Homo sapiens: one gene and its partners. The protein of the gene in region 2 interacts with the protein of the main gene of each other region in a biochemical or structural test. Each region holds a gene or a part of one and is shown on either strand. Other genes may lie near its edges.

The links.
Region 1: the proteins of ELN (region 2) and LOX form a complex in vitro, tested with the Homo sapiens proteins (2 studies listed by BioGRID and IntAct).
Region 3: of the proteins of ELN (region 2) and PRTN3, one has a biochemical effect on the other in vitro, tested with the Homo sapiens proteins (one study listed by BioGRID).

Annotation. Positions count from the first base shown.
Region 1 is NC_000005.10:122,062,695-122,068,259, forward strand, and holds the end of LOX (protein-lysine 6-oxidase isoform 1 preproprotein), read right to left. Parts: intron 4,056-5,565; coding exon 4,049-4,055; 3' UTR 501-4,048; downstream 1-500. UniProt on the Homo sapiens protein: Responsible for the post-translational oxidative deamination of peptidyl lysine residues in precursors to fibrous collagen and elastin. Regulator of Ras expression. May play a role in tumor suppression. Plays a role in the aortic wall architecture.
Region 2 is NC_000007.14:74,031,159-74,038,269, forward strand, and holds part of ELN (elastin isoform a precursor), read left to right. Parts: intron 1-4,205; coding exon 4,206-4,256; intron 4,257-5,396; coding exon 5,397-5,426; intron 5,427-6,548; coding exon 6,549-6,581; intron 6,582-7,111. UniProt on the Homo sapiens protein: Major structural protein of tissues such as aorta and nuchal ligament, which must expand rapidly and recover completely.
Region 3 is NC_000019.10:836,868-843,998, reverse strand, and holds the start of PRTN3 (myeloblastin precursor), read right to left. Parts: upstream 3,001-7,131; 5' UTR 2,991-3,000; coding exon 2,930-2,990; intron 539-2,929; coding exon 373-538; intron 107-372; coding exon 1-106. UniProt on the Homo sapiens protein: Serine protease that degrades elastin, fibronectin, laminin, vitronectin, and collagen types I, III, and IV (in vitro).

The sequences.
Region 1 (5,565 bases), on a different chromosome or scaffold from region 2:
TTTTTGTGGGTTAATTTTGTGAGTTGTTCCCCCAAAACACTTGCCCAAAGTTTGGGCCTGTTTGCCCTCTCATGTTACCAGATTTCAGGCTAATCTGGTGCATATTTAAATAAGGATTACTATGATAGCAATGTGTCTCTTTATACAAATAATTTGTAGCTAGAATTAGATGTGTGTGTGTGTATGTGTGTGTTTATATCTATAGTCAGATATATTTCTTGTAAACCTTAATTAAAGCAGTGTGATTGTTCTTGCAATGCCTGCTCTGTGTCCTTATAAGTAGCTGGTACTGGTGATAAAAGTTTATGTATGACAGTGTCTACTTAAAACATCAGCTAGATTTTTATCCATCATAGACAAATTTCCAGTGTGACCTAATTAAACAATTTTTTAGTACAAAAGGCAATTAAGAGAAACTAACACCATATCCATGGCTTATAACATTTCAACTAAAATGAAAATCAGATGATTTATTTATATAACAACAAATGACTACTATAGACACTTGAAATCATTTATTCAAGGCATTTTTATATAATCTTGCAATCATAGTATAGATGTATAATAAAAGAATATGAGAATGCAAAGAGGAACATAAAGCCAATGTCTGAGCATTTAAAATAAGAGTTCTTCAAAAAAGTTACACGTCTTACAAATAACATTCCTGAAAAATTTGGGAGAAGCTAAAACTTCACTAAAAACCTAACACCAAATGACATGTTACTTAGTTTATAGCAAGCAGTTTTATATTAATTAAATGTTTATATACCACAAGCTAAGATTTAATGCATTTTACATTCAGATTTAAATAACTCAGCACCATTTTAGCTTAGAGGATAAATGAAATGTTTAGTGTTTAAAAGTGGCCCAGGAATTTTGGTAGCTAGGAATGAGACTTAACTCACTGATTGAATATGTTGATTGTGAATATGAGTTCAAAAAAATATGTATATATAGAAAAAAGAGTACTTTTTAGTTATCAGTTAATACACTGATTCGTATCAAAACACATTATTTTTAAAACAAAATATCTCCTTACCAGGAATTCAGTATTTTCATGCAATCTGCTAAAGATTAACTCTCAGTGCCAGGAAAATTTTAATGAATTGCATTTCTTCTAGAATCCGAATATTGGGAATGTTTATAAGTGTGACTATCCTATGAGATTTCAAAGAGAAAAAAAGTACTACAAATAATGCCTAGTGAGTAATTGGATGATAGAAATTGTAAATAAAGTTATTCTATAAAAATATACAGATTTTCTGGAAATAGGCAAGTTGTATTCTCATATATGTTATGCTAGCCTCAGAGGTCAAGACATCTTTAACCCAGACTGTGGTCTGAATCATCATGAGATCGCTAATATGGCATATTGTAAACTGACTCATAAACTCTGAAATTATGTTCCTATTTAGTCCATTTTCTGTCTTTTTTAGTGTAAAAGCCAATCTCCTGTCAGTACTCAACATTCTTTTTATCATTGCCAGTTCCTATTTTTTAAAATGTATTTAGAGTTTGGTAAGACTGGTCTGTGTTATTTTATTAATTGATAACCTTCATCAACTAATTATTATCTTTGAGTTTCGGCAGTTATTCAGAGAAGAGATTCAAAGTTCAAAATAGTTCAAAGAAGTTCAGTAATACAGAGTGTTAAATCAGTACTTGTGAGTTATTTGGGTGTGTTTAGAGGTGCCAGGAGGGGGATGAATGTTCATATAAGGAATAAAGTAGTATTTTTAGCTTCCTAATTGAAAAAAAAAAATCGTCAAAATTAACCAAATAGTAGGTGTTATATTTAAAAGGCAGACATTTCAGGGATTGAACACATTTTTAATTATTAGAAATACATACATGCATATAATTAACCTTTAATTTATTTTTAAAAATAAATTATGGTCATGAAAAACAATAGTGCTTAAAATTGAAATTTCATAGACATGTAATTTTATTCCCTAAAAATGAAATAAGATGAACCTTATGGGTAATAATGGGATTTTTAATACTTATTGAGGTTATAGACAGTCTTTTTTATGTCTCAATGCATACCATGTGAGTACTTGGCATATATTAGGCCTTCAAATGATGATGGATGGATAGACAGATAAAAGGCCCAATGAATGATTGTAAATGTGTCTTCTCCTATGTATCCATGATGATATTGCCTAGTTTTTAATACAAGCTTAAGAATCAATAAAATGATAGATCTGAAATCTGTAGATGCCAGTCTGGCTCAGTATTAATACTGACAGTAGTTTTTTTGTTTTTTAAGAAAGCAAGTATATTAAAATATCTCTGTTAGAAAAGATTACAATTTGAAAGGATCATTCTACAATCTTAGAACTAAAAAGCAATTTAAGGCAAAGAGGTACATCAAAGAAGCTATTCCATAGCTCAGTTACAGCTCAACAAAAGCTCTGTCTGTATTGTCTACTGGTAAGCTTGTGCCCTGGTGGCTAAGGATCATATGTACCGCTATATCCGCCAGTTGATGACTGTCCATCTCTAGCCCCTCTAACCATGCTATGCACCCAGTGAGTGCAGAATGATTACTAGTAATTGATGTTGACTTTACAATTCTATGACATGTAATACAGGATGCCGAGGCACTTTTAAAATTCCACCTAACATGTTCTGGCACTGGAAAATCTTACTTGAGATTTTAATACTGGTTAATATAGGAAAAATTATGCTTAAGCACCACTAACTTAAAAGTGTAATTTCATTTTCTTGAATTTAGGTAAAAGCAAAATTCTCAAAATTCTATTATGGCACATGGTTTCACAGTTTCAAATGAAATCACAGCTGTCTCATTACGCAGCACAGTCCTTGGTTTTGCAGAAAGTATATTTTTCCTTTGTTCACCAACCCCTCAAGTATGTAATACTATGTGCTTTGCTAATTTAGACTATATCTCAGACACACACACATGTGTGACTGATTCCTGAATAACCCAGGATGATGTTCCTGTGTTCTAGATAATATAAAATTTTTAACATTCCTCTAATAGCTGAACATCTTTTTAAAATCTAGAAAACTTGAAAAATCCTAAAATGTTTTTCAATTTTTTTAAGCTATTTGAGAGACAGTTGTGGTTTGGGGGGGACTTGTTTGTGTGATTTTTATGTCAGCAAGAAAATTGTATCTTTGGCAAATACTTTAATATGTTTAAATGCATTTTACCTCTGGATGTATCACATCAGTCATCAAAATGACTTTCCAGTTTCACGGCTGCCTTATGTATACCAGTCCCAAGAATGGTGATATTAAGAATCCCACTTACAACATCTCTGCCCATGGGAAAGATAAAATGATAGAGGGCAGCCTCAAGAAATATCAGACAGGATTGGGCAGCTCCCTTACTTAATTTGTTCCAAAACAAAAGTTGACTCAAGTCAAAATGAAATTGTGCACTTGAAAGAAAGGAAGTTATCTACTAATTTTTTAAATGTAAACATACTTTTTATATAGGGATGTAACTATCTGAGTACATGTATTGCCATTTCTCTGCTATATAGTAATATTTCTTGACACCAATGGTAATGTGTTTGTTTCTTTCTCAGCACCAGATGTGTCCATATGTATTTAAACAGTAGGAGCATTGTTTCTAAATTCATCTATGCTATGACATATATAAACCCATTATTATTATGTTTCACTAAAGTTCCAGCACTTTAGAAAAGTTTCAGTTCAAAGTCATTTTGGCTCATTCATTTAGATAATACTGACCATTTTGCACTACAATTTCAAAAGGAACATGAGAAATTTGGATTTCTTTGAAAGAGTCAAATATGTAATTACAGAATTGAAACACTGTGTTAATTCACAAAGTGATGTAAATAATAAACATTAAAAATTTCCCAAGTAATGATGACTTAAGCGTTCAAAATCCAGTTATGTGCTTTGTTATTGAAAACAGTCCAAACAAAAATTCTTTTGTTGTTTTCTGTTCTCTTTTTCAAAATACATAAATCCTACTGAAGTTAGTCTATTTTTTCCCACTTCAGAACACCAGGCACTGATTTATCCATTGGGAGTTTTGCTTTGCCTTCTAATACCTAGATTAAGAAGACAAAATAAGACAAATTATTAACCTGATAATATAATGAATGAGTACAACAGACAAATTTAAAGTCAACCTTTTAAAAACTTTATGCAACAGTTTCCCTCCACCTAAGCAGCAATCATGTTGTGAAATTATGCAGTAGTACATCATTTTAATAATGGTTTGAAGAAAGTGACTATGTCAACAGCAGAGATGCCTGATGCCTACACTCTTCACATTTAGAGGCAAAGAAACCACTTCTGAAACACTCAAGAGTACAGCAGGACTTCTGGGACCAGCATCCCTGACCAGGGGAATTCATTCCATGGAACAAGGGTGGCATGTCCACCAAGAAGTAGAGTCAAGGCCTCTGCTCCATCTTGAATTAGTCCTTCTCCAGCATGGCTTTGGATGTAGAATAATACATTAATAGGCAGAAACTGGACCAAAGCTAATCAATCAAATATTACTGTCTTTAAATGTGACCATAGATCTTCATGTAAGGAAGTGAAAATTCACTTATTCAAATCATAAACTACCAATTTCCAAACAGTAAATTCTGTGAGGAGAAAAAAAAAAACTTACATAGTATCTTATAACTGAAAGAAGCCTCAGAGTCACCTGGTCCGTACATTTTGTTTCAGTGAGGAAAATGAAGGAGAGAGGGTACATTAACAGCACATACCTATTCAACTATTTACTGGGTGGCTTTTACACATCAACAGAATGCTCTTAAATATCTGGCAGGAAAAGCAATCAGTGAACTGATACATGATATGTCTTCAGAGTCACACTCACTGCTGCTTACACAGCCACCAGACTGACCTGATGGCCTTAGGCAAGTTACACTTCCTGCTCAAAAAGCTTCAGCCTCCCACTGCCTCCAGAATAAATTTTAGCCTGCTCTTCAGGGCTGTCTTCCATCTGGCTCAACTTACTTTTCCATCCTTTTTGTCCAACTCGTAACTCCACAAAATTCATGCTTTAGCCAAACTAGAAGACTTGTTTTTCCAAACATGCCCTGCAGTTTCCTCCTGCCATGCAAGTTGCCTGTGACGTTGACTTGCCCTGGGCTTCCTTTCCTTAATGCTCCCCGGTGCATTCCCCAGACTTCAAGGCTCAATTCAAATGTATCCTAAAGTCACTCCTGAAACTCAGCCCAAAGAGACCTCTCCTCTGTCTGAACTCTGATTCCTAGGAAGGAAGGCCTGATGTGAAAGTCAAAATGTAAGAAGCAAGTATTACTATCCTGAAGGTGTGGGGTTTTTTTCTCAAATATTCTATACTTTCCCCAATATTTCCACTCAGAATAAGTATGACATTTTATTATGATCACTAATTATAATTTCACTTTTCATATTTTCATCTGGTTTATATTAGTTATAAACATTCCAGCTTCAACCACTCTTGAAGTTTGTTACAGTCAGTAATAACTAGTAAAAAAAAAAAAAAAAAAAAAAATTCAACTCTATATGAGTGACCACATCAGGAATCCCTCTTGTACAGTCATATTGCTGGAGCAA
Region 2 (7,111 bases):
AGGCAAATGGCCCTACATGTGACTTGGGGTCAGCTGGGGGTCCCAGACCAGGCTCTTCAGCTCACTGGTTCTCCATTTCCCTGGCTGCAAAATGGGGAGAAACAGCCCTGCCTGAAGTACCTCCTAGGGCCAGTGAGAGCTTCTAGCAATGTAATATCTGGGGGGAAAAAAAGCATCAAATAAAAGGACCGTGGGAATGGGCATTTTTAAAATAATCTATTCTCTTATTCAGAGTCTGCTAATTTGGGCTCATGGATCCTTGTAATTAGTGCACATTGCTAAGGTTTAATACTCCCTCTCACTACTTACACCATGTTTTGTCTAGTGGAGGGGCAGCTAATGTGTAAATAGATGTGCAATGATGAAAGAAGCAGACAGGACTCGGTTGGGGGTGGCCAGAAGGAGCCTTGAGAAATCCAGGAAGGCTTCCCAGCAGAAGTGACATTTGAGTTAAACCTAAAGAGAAAAGTAAATGGGGCCAGGTGCAGTGACTCATGCCTGTAATCCTAGCACTTTGGGAGGCCCACATGGGCAGATTGCTTGAGCCCAGGAGTTTGAGACCAGCCTGGGCAACATAGGAAGGCCCCCGTCTCTATTTAAAAAATAAATGAATATTTAAAAAGAAAGAAAAAGAAAGAAAGAGAGAGAGAGAGAGAGAAAGGAGAGAGAGAGAGACAGAAAGAAAGAAAGGAAGGAAGGAAAGAAGGAAGGAAGGAAGGAAGGAAGGAAGGAAGGAAGGAAGGAAGGAAGGAAGGAAAATGTTGGAGGACCTGTCTGTGGATGAGGGGTAAGTCCCCAGACTACAGGCCCTGGCAGGCAGAACTGAAGAGACAGAAGAGCAGATTCTCGATTGGAGGAAGCCCTGTCTGCAGTTAGTGCTGACAGCATTTGGAGGTGGTGATTTTCCCATCATGGGAGGTATGCAAGCAGAACACGAAGGATGTTTGTGGAAGGAGGTCCAGCCCAGGCCAGAAGACTATTATGATCCCTGAGAGTCTAGGATCGTGATTCTAAGATGCAAGAGACAAGTTCCACCCTGGGCTAGTCGGTGAAACATGCCAAAACCACATAAAACAAGACAAGTGTTCTCCAGGCCAACTGCTTAGGGCCAGCTGAGCAGCACAGTCAGGGAGAGCCGTGGGCTCGGGAAAGGCAGGCGGGAGAGTCTGAGCTCAGCCCTGGTGCGGGGGTAGGACTTGGACAGAGGCAAGGACATTCCTGGCAGGAGAAACGGCTTGTGCCAAGGAGTGGAGGGAGAAGTGAGGATCGCCACGGGGCCTGGGGAAGCAGCTGTTACCTTTTCAAAGTCCTTTCCAATTTCCAGCTGCTGTCATTTTATTCTCACCTCTCTCACTTGCAGAGAGGCAGGAATCCTTCGTAGCCCCTAAACCTTCTCCATTTCCTCATTGCAAAGTGGGGATTAAAACCTCGGGCTCCCCAGGCCGTCAGGTTCAGGCATGAAGTTTGGCAAATGCCACCATCATCAGGGTCTGAACGGTGGGGGTGGAGAGTGGGGACAGAGGAGATCTGGGGGAGGGGAAGCTAAGTCTTCCCCCCAGAAAGTGCCTGGGGTGCAGGAGGGCAGAACCCCAGGAGAAAGGAAGTCAGGGTTCAGCCAGGCCCAGGGGCTCAACAAGCCCAAGGCAGGGGGACTCCCAGGGCAGATGGGGATGAAACAGGTTAGAGCTGGATTCACAGACAACCACCCTGCCACCCCTCTACTTAATTCACCCATCATGTATTGAGTAACTACTGCATACCTGGCCCTGGGCCACGGACTGTGCAGTGAAATGGGAAAAAATGAAACGTAAGTGCCACTGTCTTTTTATTTTTGAGCAATTACTGTCTGCCAGGTCCAGAAGAGGACATAGCCTATTACTTGAACCCTTTTACAACTTGCAGCAACCTTGCAACCTTGCAGCAACCTTGCAACCTTGCAACAACCAAGTGATTATCTGCCCCATGTCACAAAAAAGGAAACCGATGTTCAGAGAGGTTGAGTGACTTTCCCAAGGTCGCACAGATGGTAAGAAGCAGCGAAGGCAGAATTAGAAGCCAGAGGGGTCTGTTCTGAGCACTTTGCTCTTCCCCCCACCTCCACCACACTGTTCCCTGCAGTCTGCTCTGGAGCCAGAGAGTAGAGAGGAAGGGAGAGAGGCACGTGAAGAATGAGGGAGAGGGGGAGAAAGAGGAGGAAGGAGAGAGGCCGAGGCAGAGAAAGACGCATAAGAGACTGTTGAGAGCTGGAGGCCGGAGCCAGGGAAGGCATCAGAGGCCCGAGGCGGGCCATGTGTGTGCTTGGCAGCGGATGACAGGGCCCAAGTGCTCCTTCTCAGCAGGCCCAGCCCCCCTGGGGCCACCACTCCGAGCCTTGAGGTTCTGACCAGATTACTTGCACACTTCAGGCCTGGACTGCAGTGCCTGAGGAGCCACAAGCCCTGGGAGGGGGTGGCGCCGGGGTCTTGGCTCCGGTGGCTGTGACAGCTCCACAGCCCTGACCCTGCTGGGCTGCAGCTGAGGCTGACAGGGCCCTGGGGCCAGCAAGCCCAGCTGTGCAGCGTCGCCAGGCCTCAGAGGCCAGACGTCTGGCCGCGAGGCCTCCCTGGACACATTGCAGAGACACCCGTTCCCCCAGCCCCGCCCATGCCCCACGGGGCTCCCGGCCCCTTTCAGCAAAAGCAGTAAGGGAGGGCTGGGCTGGGGCGTTGGCAAGGTGGCTTGTCAAGCTCAGAGGGGGGCCTTCTGAGGTGGAGGCAGGGCCCCCGGTTTGGGACCCTGTCTGTTGCCATGGCGATGGCTCAGGCAGGGTCTGGATCCAGCATCACAGCGTTCCCCAGTGAGAGCTTCACTGGTCCATGGGGACTGAACTCGTGATCCTGTCTGGCCGGTGAATTCGCTTTTCCTTAGGAAACTATTCACTGTGCTCATTCATGGCGTCCCCCTGCGGCCCCGGCGCCTCCTAAGACAGCCCGTGTCAGACGGCCAGAGCCCCACCCAAGCTCGGCTGCCCAGTGGCTGAGGACGCTGACCTCACGCCGTCCTATCAGTGTGGGAATGGCTGCATTTGTGCTGGCAGCTGCACCTCCTTAATGCTCGCTGTAGCAGCCCAGCCTGCCCTTCCCAAAGCTCTGGCCTCTACCCGGCAGCTCAGCTCGGGAAGGGAGTGGGCTGCCTGGTGAGAGGTGCTCAGACCCAGTGTCTTCCACCCCAGGCCCTCTCCCTGACTCCAGGGAGAACCAGGTAACACAGCAAGAACAATCATACTCTAAGGACTGGCAGCAGGGCGCAGGGGCCTGTCATCCTAGCACTTTAGGAGGCCAAGGCAGGAGGATCGCTTCCAGGAGTTCCAGACCAGCCTGGGGAACATACTGACACCCCATCTTTACAAAAAAATCAATTAGCCAGATGTGGAGGTGCACGCCTGTAGTCCCAGCTACTTGGGAGACTGAGGCAGGAGAATCGCTTGAACCTAGGAGGCAGAAGTTGCAGTGAGCTGAGATCTTGCTACTGCACTCCAGCCTGGGTGACAGAGCAAGACTCTGTCTCAAAAATAAAGCACTGGCCTGAGCTTCAATCCAGGCCCCGTCTCTTTCCAGCTGTGTGGCCCCAGGCATGTCCCTTAACCTCTCTGAGCCTGATTTCATGTCTTAAGATGATAGTCTCTGGGAGCGGTGGCTCACACCTGTAATCCCAGCACTTTGGGAGGCCGAGGCAGGCAGATCACTTGAGGTCAGGGGTTCAAGACCAGCCTGCCCAACATAGTGAAACCCTGTCTCCACTAAAAATACAGAAATTAGCCGTGCTTGGTGGCATGCACCTGTAATCCCAGCTACTCAGGAGGCTGAGGCAGCAGAATCGCTTGACCCAGGCAGACGGAGGTTGCAGTGAGCTGAGATCCCACCACTGCACTCCAGCCTGGGTGAAAGGCCAAGACTCCGTCTCAGTCTCAAACAAAACAAAATGATGATAGTAAGCCCTGCCCTTCCAACTTCACAGGCCGATTTCAAAGAGCAAGAATGAGAACACACTTTGTAAACAGAAACTGCTCTGGAGACAAGCAATGTCATTATTGCCATCAGCATTATTCTTGTTTCCATGTAATTGTGGGTTTTGCCATTGAAAGTAATGGCAAAAATCGCAGTTACTTTTGCACCAGCCTAATAGTTCTGGCTCCTGGAGGACTGACTCTACCTGTTTCCTTTCAGGGGTCCCTGGGGCCATTCCTGGTGGAGTTCCTGGAGGAGTCTTTTATCCAGGTAACGTACATGAAACTTCCACACACCCAGGTCATGCGGATGATGCTGATGTCCATAATAGATGCACATTTTGACACTACAGAAGGTAGGAACATTGACACGCCTACCAGAAGTCACACCCACTTAAAAATGCAATTAACAAGACATTGATTTACAGCTATTAAGAGCATACAGGCTGGACATGGTGGCTTATGCCTGTAATCTCAACACTCTGGGAGGCAGAGAAACAAGGATTGCTTGAGGCCAGGAGTTTCAGACCAGCCTGGACAACATAGTGAGATCCCCCTCTCTACACACACACACACACACAAATTTAAAATTAGCCATGTTCTGCATTGAGAAAAATGAAAATGAAGTATAGAAATTAAAAAAAAATTAGCTGGGCATAGTGGTGCACGCCTGTAGTCCTAGCTACTGGGGAGGCTGAGGCAGGAGGATCACTTGAGCTTAGGAGTTCAAGGCTGCAGTGAGCTATAATAGCACCACTGCACTGAAGTCTGGGTGACAGAGTAAAACCCTGTCTCTAAAAAGAAAAGGGGAAAAAAAGAAAAGAAAAATCAAAAGTAATACTTTCAATACTTAAAAAGTATTTGAGGCCAGGCACGGTGGCTCAAGCCTGTAATCCCAGCACTTTGGGAGGCTGAGGCAGGCGGATCACAAGGTCAGGAGATCAAGACCATCCTGGCTAACACGGTGAAACCCTGTCTCTACTAAAAATACAAAAAATTAACCAGGTGTGGTGGCGAGAGCCTCTAGTCCCAGCTACTCGGGAGGCTAAGGCAGGAGAATGATGTGATTGAACCCAGGAGGCGGAGCTTACAGTGAGCCGAGATCGCGCCACTGCACTCCAGCCTGGGCGACAGAGGGAGACTCCGTATAAAAAAAAATTAAAAAATTAAAAAAAGCATTTGAGTGTACAGAAGTGACCTGGAAGTGGGGAGAGACGCCAGCACTCCCCCAGATACATACTGACACTGGACTACTGGCCAAGCAGAAGAGAAAACCGAGGCTTGCAGAGAGCAGGTCTTGCCCAAGGTCACGTAGTTAGGCAGAGGTGGATTCAGCCATAGCTGGGGGTGGCAGCGGGCTTGCCTGGCAGAAGTACCGATGATCTCTCTTTCTCTTTCTCTCCCCCCACAGGGGCTGGTCTCGGAGCCCTTGGAGGAGGAGGTGAGCTCAGAAACCACACTTGTTCATCACTGAAAGGGCCTGGGTTTCACCCGAGCCACATGCATCCTCAGACCTGAGAACCCTGGGAGACCCGAGCATCAAGGACTCCCTCATTTCACAGACAGCATCCAGGCGGTGGGAGGAGGCTTCTTTGAGAACCAGAACCCATTGGCCTTCCCAGTCCCTCCCCTAGACTTTATGTCTGGTGCCCTCTGCCTTCCTATTTCTTCTTTTTTTTGGTGGGGGAGGACGGGGGGACAGAGTCTCGTTCTGTCGCCCAGGCTGGAGTGCAGTGGCGTGATCTCAGCTCACTGCAGCATCTGCCTCCCAGGTTCAAGTGATGCTCCTCCCTCAGCCTCCCAATTAGCGAGGACTACAGGCGCGTGCCACCACGCCCAGCTTATTTTTGTATTTTTTCTAGAGACAGGGTTTCATCATGTTGGCCAGGCTGGTCTCGAACTCCCAACTTCAAGTGATCTGCCTGACTCGGCCTCTCAAAGTGCTGGGATTACAGGCGTGAGCCACCTTGCCCGGCCCCTTGCCCGGCCCCTTCCTATTTCTTTTTATCCTCAAAAACCTCCCTGCCAAGCCGGCTGAGCAGGCACCATCTTCTTTTTTTTTTTTTTGAGACAAAGTCTTGCTCTTGTCACCCAGGCTGGAGTGCAGTGGCGCGATCTCAGCTCACTGTAACCTCCACCTCCCAGGTTCAGGTGATTCTCCTGCCTCAGCCTCCTGAGTAGCTGGGATTACAGGCACATGCCACCACGCCTGGCTAATTTTTGTATTTTTAGTAGAGACAGGGTTTCACCATGTTTGCCAGGCTGGTCTCAAACTCCTGACCTCAGATGATCCGCCTGCCTCAGCTTCCCAAAGTGCTAGGATTACAGGCGTGAGCCACCACCCCCAGCCCATCATCCCCTTTTGAGGCTGAGACTCTGGGACTCAGAGAGTATAAACCACGAGTTAGAAGTAGAGCTAGGTTCCCAGGGGCTCCAAGTCTGAGCGGGAGGACCTGGGGTGTGTGATTCCACACTGCCCACACTTTGCCCGGGTTGGGGGTTGGATAAGTAGTAGATGGATAAGCTGGGCCACCCCATTCACTATCTTCTCTTCCCTCTGCAGCGCTGGGGCCTGGAGGCAAACCTCTTAAGCCAGGTAAGACCCAAGGCCTCGGAGCATTGAGAGACAGCGAGGGAGCTGGGGAGGGAGGAGCCTACCCAGCTGGGAATGGGACAAGGAAACTAGGAACAGGACAAGGAAGCCAACGGGCAGGAGGAAGGAGGGAGGTGTGGACACCGATTAGCCTCCCAAGGATGAGTAGGCCGGGGCCAGGTCCCAGGGCTTCCAGGAACAAGAGGCTGGAAGCAGCTCCATGTCCTCCCTGTGTGAGGGCGTCTAGCATCTACCCTACATGTGCATGTGTGTTCACCCAGCTGTCCAGAGACTCCTCTCTGCAAAGGAGAGGCTGTTAGAGGCAACATCAGGGATTGCTCCGGTTCCAGTGGCCTCCAAGCCTTACATGACCCTCGGGAGCTCAGACACAGATCCTCAGCCCCAGACTTCCCCTGAGTGGTCCCCTAGCCCTTGACCCCAGACCAATACCCCAGATCACCCTGACCTTGATGCCATTCTGAGCCCTTCTCCTGACTCCAGATGGAGCACTGGTCTCAAGCCAAAGCTTAACC
Region 3 (7,131 bases), on a different chromosome or scaffold from region 2:
GTCGTAGTTGTTCAGAAACACCTGAGCCACCGAGAAGTGCTGCTGGGTGGGCTCCTGCGTCCGCACGTTGTGGGCTCCGAGCACCACGTTCACCAGGCGCTGGGGTCTGCGGGGGTGGGGTGGTCACTCCTCGGCGCCCTGGACACTCGCCGCCGCCCACAGCCGGCCCTTCCCGAGGCCGCGGTGCAGCCCCAGACCCCTCCCTCGGCGACCCTGCCCCGGGCCTCCCCCCAGAACTGCCCACGCGCGCGGGGCCTGGGGTCTGCAGACGGGGCTTAGCTGGGTCCTCCCCGGGCAGAGGGACAGTGGCCGGGCCAGGGCTGGAGGAAGAGGGCGGGGCGGGCGGACAGGGGTGTGGAGGCGGCCGCTCACATGTCCCGCAGGCAGTGCGCGGCCGTCAGCACGAAGCTGGGGTGGATCAAGGTGCCTCCGCAGAAGTGGCTGCCCGGGTTCCCCCGCATCTGCAGGGAGGCCATGTAGGGCCGGGAGTGTGGCTGCGCCTCGTGCCCGCCCACGATCTCCGCAGCTCGGGCAGCACCTGCAGGGGGGGAGTCCAGGCGTCAGGGAGCCCCCAGGCTGCAGGGAAAGGGGGGATGGCAGAGCAGCCCCTGGGCCTCTCCGAGCCTCCGTCTCCCGATCTGCAACCCGGTCAGTGCCTGCTGGCTGGTGGGAAGGACTCAGCGCCCAGGCCGGGGGGGTTATAATTACGACGATTTCCAAAGGCGCCCTGGTGGCAGCTTTCAGTCCTGAGAGTCAGGAAGGCTTTTAAGACGCAGACCAGGTGGCTGGGTGCAGTGGCTCACGCCTGTAATCCCAACACTTTGGGAGGCCGAGGCAGGAGGCTCCCTTGAGCTCAGGAGTTCAAGACCAGCCTGGGCAAAATTGTGAGGACCCCATCTCTACAAAAAATTTTAAAATTAGCCAGGCATGGTGGTGTGCACCTGTCGTCCCAGCTACTTGGGAGGCTGAGGAGGGAGGATCGCTTGAGCCCAGGAGGTCAAGGCTGCAGTGAACTGAGATCACACCACTGCACTCCAGCCTGGGCAACAGAGCAAGACCCTGTCTCTAAAACAAAATTTAAAAAAATGTTTTTAAAGAAGCAGAAAAATTGGTCGGGTGCGGTTGGCCCACGCCTGTAATCCCAATACTTTGGGAGGCCGAGGTGGGTGGATCACCTGAGGTCAAGAGATGGAGACCATCCTGGCCAACATGGTGAAACCCTGTCTCTACTAAAAATACAAACATTAGCTGGGCGTGGTGGCACGTGCCTGTAGTCCCAGCTACTCCGGAGGTTGACGCAGGAGAATCGCTTGAACCCAGGAAGCGGAGGTTGTGGTGAGCCAAGATCGCCCCACTGCACTCCAGCCTGGCAACAGAATGACACTCCGTCTCAAAAAAAAAAAAAAAAAAAATTAGCCAGGTGTGGTGGTTCGCACCTGTAATCTCAGCTGCCTGGGAGGCTGAGGCAGGAGAATCGCTTGAACCCAGGAGGCACAGGTTGCAGTGAGCCGAGATCACACCACTGCACTCCAGCCTGGGCAACAGAGTGAGATTCTGTCTCAAAAAAAAAAAAAAAAAAAAAAAATCCTGGGCGCAGTGGCTCATGCCTGAGTGAGACCCCATCTCAAAAAAACAAAACAAAACAAAATAAAAAAAAAGAAGCAAAAAAAAAAAAAAAAATCAGCCAACAAAGAGACCCATTTTGCAGATGAACAAACTGAGGCATTGAAAATCCCCCTCAGGTCAGGAGTTCGAGACCAGCCTGACCAACGTGGTGAAACCCCATCTCTACTAAAAATACAAAAACTAGCCAGGTGTGGTGGTGTGTGCTTGTAATCCCAGCTACTCAAGAGGCGGAGGCAGGAGAATCATTTGACCCCAGGAGGCTGAGGCTGCAGTAAACTGAGATTGCACCACTGCACTCCAGCCTGGGCGACAGAGCAAGATTCCGTTTCAAAAAAGAAAAAAAAAGGGCCAGGCGCGGTGGCTCACGCCTGTAATCCCAGCACTTTGGGAGGCTGAGGCAGGCGGATCACGAAGTCAGGAGATCGAGACCATCCTGGCTAACACCTTGAAACCCCGTCTCTACAAAAATTACAAAAAATTATCCAGGCATGGTGGTGGGCGCCTGTAGTCCCAGCTACTCGGGAGGCTGAGGCAGGAGAAAGGCGTGAACCCGGGAGGCTGAGCTTGCAGTGAGCCGAGATCGCGCCACTGCACTCCAGCCTGGGCGACAGGGCGAGACTCCGTCTCAAAAAAAAAAAAAAGAAAAAGAAAAAGAAAATCACCCTCAGGATAGGGACCTGAGGGGGCCCATGCTCTCTTCTTCCCCTGATTCCAGCATCACTAACTCCTCGACCCTTTCACTCACTCACTCATTCATTCATTCACTCATTCATTCGTTCACTCATTCACTCATTCACTCATTCATTCACTCATTCACTCATTCATTCACTCACTCATTGATTCATTCACTCATTCATTCGTTCACTCATTCACTCATTCACTCATTCATTCACTCACTCATTGATTCATTCACTCATTCATTTGTTCACTCATTCACTCACTCACTCATTCATTCACTCATTCATTCATTCATGCATATTCACTGAGCATTTGCTGAAGGCTGGGTGCTGTCCAGGAATTCGCCTGTTACTAGCTAATTCCCAAAACAGCTCCTCAGGAGGGAAGGGCTGGGTTTTGCCCGTTTTACAGATAGGCAACTGAGTCAAATGGCCAGGGCTCCCCCTTGCCCTTGTCCTCCCCACCCCTGCAAGCGTTGGTCCCGAGCAGTGAGTGGAGTCTCCCCTGACCCTGCCTCAGTTTCCCCAGCTGTGCCAGAAGGGCTTTGGATGGACCTCGTGGTGGATATTTCCCCACAATCCACCGGGGCCTGGAGGCTGGATGGATGGGCACGTGGCTCACTCACCGCTCAGCAGCAAGGCCAGCAGCACGGACGCCAGGGCAGGGCTGGGGGGCCGGTGAGCCATGGTGGGGTCCAGGGTGCACCCACGGTCAAGCTCCTCTTATAGCCCAATGCCAGAGGCCGTTGAGTTGCCCAATGCCCAGGCTGGGTCCCCACTTCCTCCTTTTGCCTTGGGAGCCTGGGAGTCAGAACGGACTCCGGGGAGGAGGTGGGGGCTTTGGGCTCAAGGTCCCAACCTTTGTGGGGGCGGGGAGGCTGGCTGTCACCCACCCAAGTCGGGGGTCCCTGGCCAGGTGGGCAACATGGCCACAGCCCTCAGAGCAACACATGCCCACGTGCCACCCACAAGGAGACGCCTCCCTGACGAGGTCCCTGTGGCCCCAGCAAAGCCGGCCGTGGCAGGTGTGTCCCGTGGGTGGGTGAGCTGGAAACGGACAGACAGCAGGACGTAGCAGGGGACAGGATGCAGAGCTCGGGAAGGCAGGGCCCCACCACGAGTGCCCTCAGTGCCTCACCTGAGGCCCCAGCGAACATCCTCCTGCCAGTTTTGTCTGGGGGTTTTCTTCCCCCTTTAAGGCCAGGATTCTCAATCAAGAGGTGATTCTGCCCCCAGGGGACCCTGGGCGAGGTCTGAGGACACCTGTGGCTGTCACGAAAGGGGAGCTCCTGGCATGGAGTGGGTGGAGGCCAAGGATGATGCCTAGCACCCTGCAGTGCCCAGGACGGGCCTGCCCCAGAGAAGGATCCAGCCCCGATGTCCACAGGGCCCAGGGGAGAGACCAGTGTTCATTATTTGGGGAAAAAAATGGCCAGGTGCGGTGCCTCACACCTGTAATCCCAGCACTTTGGGAGGCCGAGGCGGGTGGATCGCCTGAGGTCAGGAGTTCAAGACCAGCCTGGCCAACATAGTGAAACCCCATCTCTACTAAAAATACAAAAATTAGCTGCGCGTGTTGGCGGGCGCCTGTAGTCCCAGCTACTCAGGAGGCTGAGGCAGGAGAATCACTTGAGCCTGGGAGGCGAAGGTTGCAGGGAGCCAAGATCGTGCCACTGCACTCCAGCCTGGGCAACAGAGCAAGACTCCATCTCAAAACATAAATAAATAAAAATAAAAAATAAAAAATCCAGTCTGCCCCCTGCTCACACCGGACACCAGAATAAACTCCCGATGGGGCGTACGGCATAAACCCGGGGGACCCCAGCTCCCGGGACTCGCCTCCTCTCTCCCTCCCACTCAGGGTGTGGATTTCAATGTGTGCAGCCTCCTGGGACCTCAGCAGGGCAGAGGATCATGGGACTCAGAGTCTCTTGGGGTCTGTGGAATCCTCTAACCCTGGGGTGATTCTGCCCCCAGGGGTCCCTGTGTGAGGCCTGGAGACATCCGTGGTTGTCACGACTTGGAGGGAGCTCCTGGCAGGGCCCTGCAGTGCCCAGGATGGCCCCGCCGCAGAGACAAATCCAGCCCCCATGTCTGCAGTGCCGGAAACGGGGGAAAGCCGAGGACAGAGGATAAAATTATTTATTTATAACTGAACGGTTTAAACCTACAGTGAAATGGAGAGAAGCACTGAATGAACTTGGAGGCCAAAAAGAAAAAAAGCTTTTTAACGTTTCATTTGGAAAGGATTTCACGCTTACAGAAGTCCAAAGGGTCCAAACTCCCTCCCCGCTCCCCAAACTCCCTCCCCCGGCCTCCCTCCCCCAGCTTCCCTAAATTCTGTCCTCTTGCTCAACCCTCCAGGCTGTGATCGAAGCCAGGGCGCGAAAGTTGATTCCAAATGGCCCCCTCTGCCCCAGCCCCCTGAGTATCACCAGCCACCCTTTGCTGGGTCCTGGGTACACAAGCCACCCATCTTCAGATGTCAGGGTCTCCTCCAGCGGGCGCAGTCCCTCTGCCCTCCCTCAGCCCTTGGGACCATTGAGGAGAGCTGGTGGTCACTCTGCAGAGCGTCCCTCCGTGGGGATGGTCCTGGGTGGCCTCAGGACTCAATGGAGGGAGTCCCGGGCGTGGCGTGTGTCTGTCTCAGGCCCCCCACGTCGAAGCCCATGGCTTCGGCCTGTCTCGTGCTGATGGTAATAACCTTGACCACGTGGTCAGGGCATCTGCCGGTTCCTGCACTGTCCAGTTACTGTTTTCCCCTTTGGATTTTTTTTTTTTTTTGAGACAGAGTCTCGCTCTGTCACCAGGCTGGAGAGCAGTGGTGCGATCTCAGCTCACTGCAATCTCCGCCTCCCGGGTTCAAACAATTCTCCTGCCTCAGCCTCCTGTATAGCTGGGATTATAGACGCCCACCACCACGCCTGGCTAATTTTTTTTTTTTTTTGTATTTTTAGTAAAGACGGGGTTTCACTATATTGGCCAGGCTGGTCTCGAACTCCTGACCTCAGGTGACCCGCCCGTAATCCCGCCAAAGTGCTGGGAACACAGGTGTGAGCCACTGCACCTGGCTATATTAATGTATATAACATAGATGTATACATAAAATATGTAGCATGTATATTATTTACATTATATAATATATAATATTTTAAAATATACATATATATTTTTTGAGACAGGGTCTGGCTGTGTCACCCAGGCTGGAGTGCAGTGGTGTAATCATGGCTCACTGCAGCCTCGACCTCCTGGGCTCAAGCAATTCTCCTGCCTCAACCCCCCAAGTAGCTGGGACCACAGGCATGCTCCACCATGTCCAGCTAAAGTTTTTCTTTCTTTTTTTTTTTTTTTTTGGTTGGCTGTTTAATTTTTTGTAGAAATGGGGTCTTGCTATGTTGCCCTGGCTGGTCTTGAACTGCCAGCCTTCAGGGACGCTCCTGCCTTGACCTCCCCAAATGCTGGGATCACAGGCATGAGCCACCATGACCGACCTGATGTGTATTAAAGAACTAGAGCTGTGGGCCGGGCGCGGTGGCTCACGCCTGTAATCCCAGCACTTTGGGAGGCCGAGGCGGGCGGATCACGAGGTCAGGAGATCGAGACCATCCTGGCTAACACGGTGAAACCCCGTTTCTACTAAAAATACAAAAAATTAGCCGGGCGTGGTAGCGGGCGCCTGTAGTCCCAGCTACTCGGGAGGCTGAGGCAGGAGAATGGCGTGAACCCGGGAGGCGGAGCTTGCAGTGAGCAGAGATTGTGCCACTGCACTCCAGCCTGGGCGACAGAGCGAGACTCCGTCTCAAAAAAAAAAAAAAGAAAAAGAACTAGAGCTGTGGCCGGGCGCGGTGGCTGTTGCCTGTAATCCCAGCACTTTGGGAGGCTGAGGCAGATGGATCACAAGGTCAGGAGTTCAAGACCAGCCTGGGCAACATGGTGAAACCCCGACTCTACTAAAAATACAAAAATTAGCTGGGTGTGGTGGCAGATGCCTGTAATCCCAGCTACTTGGGAGGCTGAGGGAGGAGAATTACTTGAACCCGGGAGGTGGAGGGGGCAGTGAGCTGAGATCGCGTCACTGCACTCCAGCCTGGGCAACAGAGCGAGACACCGTCTCAAAATAAAAGGGTTATTCTCATTCAACAAAAGTGCTGTTGGTTTCAGCCATGAGTCAGCTCATGCTGAGGCAAGCTGTTTGGCTTGCAGTCCTCAGTTTCCCCACCTGTAAAGGCGGGTGAGGACGGTAATAGGACCTTCTGCAGGGCAGCAGTGGGGGTCGACGGATTTGAGGTTTCTTGATTTGTTTTTACATGGAGTTTTGTTCTTGTCACCCAGGCTGGAGTGCAGTGGTGTGACCTTGGCTTCCTGGGTTCAAGCCATTCTCCTGCGTCAGCCTCCTAAGTAGCTGGGATTACAGGCACCTGCCACCACGCCTGAATAATTTGTTTTTTGTATTTGTAGTAGAGACGGGATTTCACCATGTTGGCCAGGCTGGTCTCGAACTCCTGACCTCAGGTGATCCGCCGGCCTCAGCCTCCCAAAGTGCTGGGATTACAGGCGTGAGCCACCGCGCCCTGCCTTTTTTTTTTTTTAATAGAGAGGGGTCTTGCTATGCTGCCCAGGCTCGTCTGGAACTCCTGGGCTCCAGCGATCCTCCCCCACCATCTGGCCACTACCGAATTGTTAAGTGGGTGAATTGCTTGGTGTGTGTGAAGGACATCTCAATAAAGCTGTCAACCAAAAAAAAAAGAAAAGAAAGAAAAGAAAGACCTTGCACACACACTGCTGGATCTAGCACACGCGAGAGCTGCCCAGGGGGCTGCCCCGTCCT